Regions from separate parts of the Homo sapiens genome. Here region 1 is linked to region 2. Evidence: fine-mapped expression QTL. A gene starts in region 2. The other region holds a variant in brackets. All regions are shown on one strand. Distances are between the middles of the regions. Region 1 overlaps SHLD2 (shieldin complex subunit 2). Region 2 holds the start of SHLD2 (shieldin complex subunit 2).

Evidence for each region. PIP is the estimated chance that this variant, and not a neighbour inherited with it, causes the effect.
Region 1: its variant is fine-mapped to the expression of SHLD2 in whole blood (INTERVAL, PIP above 0.99).

The regions. Positions count from the first base shown.
Region 1 is chr10:87,179,658-87,182,157 of GRCh38, reverse strand. It overlaps SHLD2 (shieldin complex subunit 2), which reads right to left. Exons shown (of 10, transcript NM_001330112.2): 8 at 1,855-2,083. Among named protein-coding and RNA genes, the nearest start is that of NUTM2A, 45 kb to the left of the region's middle. The variant G/TG (reference allele first, on the strand shown) is at 940.
Region 2 is chr10:87,093,590-87,096,610 of GRCh38, reverse strand. It overlaps SHLD2 (shieldin complex subunit 2), which reads right to left and starts at 1,405. Exons shown (of 10, transcript NM_001330112.2): 1 at 1,363-1,405. GLUD1 (glutamate dehydrogenase 1) reads left to right here and starts at 1,768. Exons shown (of 13, transcript NM_005271.5): 1 at 1,768-2,286. The coding sequence starts at 1,842. RefSeq lists an enhancer at 755-814 and silencers at 857-1,114, 1,035-1,734, 1,855-1,994, 2,195-2,534.

The sequences.
Region 1 (2,500 bases), 86 kb before region 2:
TGATAACTTGAAGGGAGTTTGTTAATTTCAATATTTTCTTTTCAAGGAAACCATATAATCTGGACTCTAATAACAATTTAAAGGCTTTTAGGCTGCACTTGGTGGCTCACACCTGTAATTCCAGCACTTTGGGAGGCTGAGACGGGTGGATCACCTGAGGTCAGGAGTTCGAGACCAGCCTGACCAACATGGAGAAACCCTGTCTCTATAAAAATACAAAATTAGCCAGGCGTGGTGGCACATGCCTGTAATCCCAGCTACTTGGGAGGCTGAGACAGAAGAATCACTTGAACCTGGGAGGCAGAGGTTGCGATGAGCTGAGATCGCACCAGTGCACTCCAGCCTGGGCAACAAGAGCGAAACTCTGTCTCAAAAAATAAAAAAAAAAGGCTTGTAAATAAATAAAAAATAATAATTCTTGCCTTAACATGACCATTCAACATTCTAGTAAGACAACAAACTAGCACTACATCTTTAATGTGGTATAGTTTAGGAAGAGATCTTAAATACCTCATACTAGTTATGCCATAATCAGGTGATACTGATCTGTGAAGTCCTTCTCTTGAACAGTCATTTTGTAAACTAAAGATTCAAAGGCCCTCCTCCCCATAAGGAATAGTATTGAGCAACATTTTTGTCCAATAAATGCTTATATTGAATAGAAACATTTGGAATGACATAAATAAGTCACCTATACATACTTTTGAGGGGCCTTAACTATTAATAAATCAATGTTGTTTGTTACATACCATGCATTTTTTGTTTTGATTTTGAGACAGGGTCTCACTCTGTTGCACAAGCTAGAGTGCAGTGGTGCAAACATAGCTCACTGTAACAATCGATCTCCTGGGCTCAAACAATCCTCCTGCCTCAGCCTCCCAAGTAGCTGGGACTACAGGCCTATGTCACCTGCCCAGCTTTTTTTTTTTTTTTTTTTTT[G/TG]GTAGAGATGGGGTTTCCCTATGTTTCCCAGGCTGGTCTTGAACCCCTGGGCTCAAGCGATCCCCCCACCCCGGCCTCCCAAAGTGCTGGGATTACATGCGTGAGCCACCACACCCAGCCTACCATACATCTTAATTCAATCTTCTTTTCCACAAAAGCAACTTTCACAGTAATAGCAAAATTTATTCACTTATTTATAACAAACATAATATCTGTAAAGAGAAATAAGGTTTACAAATTAAGCTTCTATAACTTTTCTTGAAGTATGCCATGATAACATGTGGAATATATCTGAATTTGGTTTTTAGATACCGCAATATTTAGAAATAATCATAAGGAGCATAAAACACTGAGTGCTATTTTGTAAACACATGTAATTTATGAGGTAAAGAGAAAAATATCTGAGCTTTTGACTACCTATTATTCAAAAAACAATGTGTTTTTCACTGAGCTGATTAGCAGTTTTACCATACAACATTTATTTGCTAGCTTTAATTTCTAAGGTAAAGGTGGGAAAACACCTTAAATGTCTTACTAGCTTCCACAACAACTCAGAGGTGAGATCATATGATACTTTTAGCCCTTAAATTCTATGTTAAGGTGGGAAAATGAGTTATTTATGAGCATTTAGATTTTGGTTAAAAAGTAAACCAAGGAAAATGTTTCTTTGGTACAGCTGTTTGAAGACAATAAAATCTCCCAATTACTGCTTTAAGAAATTCCTATCTTTAAGAAATTCCTATAACGATTCCTGGGTAATTTTTGCTTCCATAAATAGCTATCTATCACTCGGAAAATTTTATTCTCTTCGACTAGCTCTAGTTAATTATTTTTAGAAAGTAAGGGTTTACAGACTAATTTTTCCAGATCTATAATAATTATTTTCCATCAAATTGGCTTGCTTAGTTGCCTTACCTATAATATATTTTCTTCATAGTAAATGGCAAGCAGCTAAAACATTGTTTGTAGATCCTGTTCTCATCTGTTTCTAGTTCCAATCCACATTTTGCACAACCAGTATATACGATGTTGGGAAGAGAAGAAAAAATACTCTTCAGAGAACTGTGAGCATTTAGCGCTATCTTCTGAGATGCTGTAATAGGAAATGCCAGCTCTGAAATCTGGGCTTTAATCAGAACCACTCCTACAAACAACAAACAGATATATTATAAATTATTGGGCCAAAATTATAACTTTAATTTACAAACATGGCTAATTTTATAGTTGATTTACAGTCACTTGTAGTAAAAGGATACACTGAGGTCTTGTTCTTCGTCTTCTTTACTATTTTCCTAGAATCTAAGGGCAGGGATGTCTGGCTGCAACTGAGAGCAGGTTTACTTGGCTAATTTGGCTGAACATGTGATGTTTCCTTCCTTCCCCATCCTCTGGAATCAGGCAAAATAAGTTCAATACCTCCTTTAGAAGAAATCCCTTCGAATACTTGAAACTAGCTAACATGTCCTCTCTCCTTGCCCTGTCTTCTCTTAAACTGATCATAGTGAAAAGCCAAATAGGGGCCGGGCGCAGTGGCTCACGCCTGTAATCCCAGCACTTTGGG
Region 2 (3,021 bases):
TAATGACTGTCATTAGAGCTTTATTTTTTATTTTCTTTTTATAGAGACGAGCCCAGGCTGGTCTTGAACTCCTGGCCTCAAGCGATCAGCCTGCTTTGGCCCCCAAAGTGCTGGGATTACAGGCGTGAGCCACCGTGCCAGCCTCGTTAGTTTGAAAAGCACCAAAAGCTATCCATAGGAATGTGAACTTTAGCATTTCCTATCAAGTATGTATAAATACATAACTGAACCCTCATACAGCATAAAGCTTATAAATCATATACTGAGGCCAGGCGCGGTGGCTCACGTCTGTAATCCCAGCATTCTGGGAGGCCTAGGCGGGCGGATCACTTGAGGTCAGGCGTTGGAGACCAGCCTGGCCAGCACAGCGAAACCCCGTCTCTACTAAAAATGCAAAAATTAGCCGGGCGTGGTGGCGCGGGCCTGTAATCCCAGCTACCCCGAGGCTGAGGCAGGAGAATCGCTAGAACGAACCCAGGGAGGTGGAAGCTGCAGTGAGCCGAGATGGTGCCACTACACTCCCGCCTGGGCGACAGAGCAAGATTCCATCTCAAATAAATAAATAAAATAAAAAATAAATCATATACTGAACCATTTAACAAATACATATATTCCTGAGAAAGAATTTCCTGGGGGCATTATCGCATTTCTAGTTTCCTTATTTTAGACTATTTCAGAGGGAGATAGGGTCTCCCTCTGTTGCCCAGGCTGGGGTGCAGTGGAGCTATCGTAGCTCACTGCAGCCTCGAACTCCTGGGCTCAAGCCATCCTCCAGCCTCGACCTCCCAAAGTGCTAGGACTAAAGGCGTGAGCCACCGCGCCGGGCCGGAGCCTCTGTCTGCAAAGGTGAAGCAGTCAGTACTGTGGGGCGACACAACCACGACGTGCGTAACTATGCGATCTCCACACTGCGGAGCAGTTGAACGGGACAATAAAAGCTCGCGTGGTGAGAGCTTGTGGGCGAGTGACTCCCTTCCAGCTCACGCCAGCCACGCATAATCCAACTCCGGGTGCCACGCCGCTCTCTGCAGCCCTGGCTGGTGACGCCGAGCCCTCAGCCCGGCCTTACGCGGCGGCGGCTCTGCCTCGCTTTCCTGCCCACGTGTCAGCCCCTGCACGCCCGGCCCCGGCCTGAGGCCGCCAGAGGACAGGCCAGGGTGGGCCGCCCGTTCCGAGGGCGCGCGGGCGGAAAGGAGGGGCGCCCGTGACTCACATGACCCGGTCCCCGACCAGACCGCCAAGCCTCACCCACGCGGCGCTCGGGGGGACTCGGCCTCTGAGCGCCCTACAGAGGCCAGCCCCCGACCCCGACCTCCCTGGGCTACCCCCAACCCCCCTGAGGGACCCCCGCGGCGCACATACCTGAGAGCCCCGCCGGAGGCGGGTGCGGCCTCCGGGCAAATCCGGCCGCCCGTGGGCCCGCCCCGACCCGCCCCGACCCGCCCCGACCTTCCCCTCCCTGCCCCTCCCGTCCGTTCCCCTCCACTCTCCTCCCCGCCCTTCCTCTCCCCTCCCCTCCCTTCCCCACTGGCGCGCGAGCGTGCGCGCCGAGCCCGCCCGCGCCTGCGCGCCCCCGACGCCCCGCCGGCGCGCGCTGCCGCCAGCGAGGCCCGGGGAGGCCGCGGCGGAGGCGGAGGCCCGGCGCCCTGGGCGGCGCCCTGTCCCCGAAGTCCGTCCTCCCCGTTAGGTGGCGAGCGCCCGAGGGGAGGGGACAGCCGGGCAAGCAGGAAGCTGCGGCTTAAAAGGGCAACCCGCGCGGGACCCTTCCTCCCTAGTCGCGGGGAGTCTGAGAAAGCGCGCCTGTTTCGCGACCATCACGCACCTCCCCTCCGCTTGTGGCCATGTACCGCTACCTGGGCGAAGCGCTGTTGCTGTCCCGGGCCGGGCCCGCTGCCCTGGGCTCGGCGTCCGCCGACTCGGCCGCGTTGCTGGGCTGGGCCCGGGGACAGCCCGCCGCCGCCCCGCAGCCGGGGCTGGCATTGGCCGCCCGGCGCCACTACAGCGAGGCGGTGGCCGACCGCGAGGACGACCCCAACTTCTTCAAGATGGTGGAGGGCTTCTTCGATCGCGGCGCCAGCATCGTGGAGGACAAGCTGGTGGAGGACCTGAGGACCCGGGAGAGCGAGGAGCAGAAGCGGAACCGGGTGCGCGGCATCCTGCGGATCATCAAGCCCTGCAACCATGTGCTGAGTCTCTCCTTCCCCATCCGGCGCGACGACGGCTCCTGGGAGGTCATCGAAGGCTACCGGGCCCAGCACAGCCAGCACCGCACGCCCTGCAAGGGAGGTGAGCGTCGGCCGGGCCCCGTCCCGCCCTCCCTGCCTCCCCTGCGGCCCTCCCCTCCGGCCTCCTGCCGGTGCGGGGCCGCTGCTCAGCCCAGCCCAGCCCAGCTGGAGCGGGCCGGGTCCCCGCCCGGGTCACCCCGCCTCGGATGTGGCCGGCTCTGTGGATGGTGATTTTTCCGCCTTAAAATCATCATGCGATTGGCCTGCCCCCTCCCCCGCGCCGTCACCCCGGGCCTCTGTATATGCTGATCTTGCATGCAGAGTAGACGCTGCACCGGTCTCCTTTTGGTCCCGGTGTCTGTGTCACACACGGCGGGTCCTGCCGAAATGCACTTCTAGGAAAGGGAATGACCTGCCCGTGTGATAATGCCTCGTCAGTGTTCTTGGGCTTTTGTGAGTCTCCCCTAAATGCAAGCTGTCAAATTATTTTCTGGTATTTGTTCACTCCTGTTCCAATAGTGACAGATGATATCCGAACATAGAAAATGACTTGGCTTCTAAGTTTGAAATCTAGACAGTTTTATTAACCAAAGGAATTTACTAATCACGCGTTAATCGTTTCAATTAAGTAATTTTCCCATTCTGACAAGTTCTGTTTTATACCAAAAAAAAGGAAAAACACAAAAAAATCACAAGCAATGTAATATCTCTGACAAATAAACACCTGGCGTCCTGACAGTAAATTTACAGGTTGTAGGCTGCGGATGGCCAGCCAGCCAATGGAATGAAATAGCTC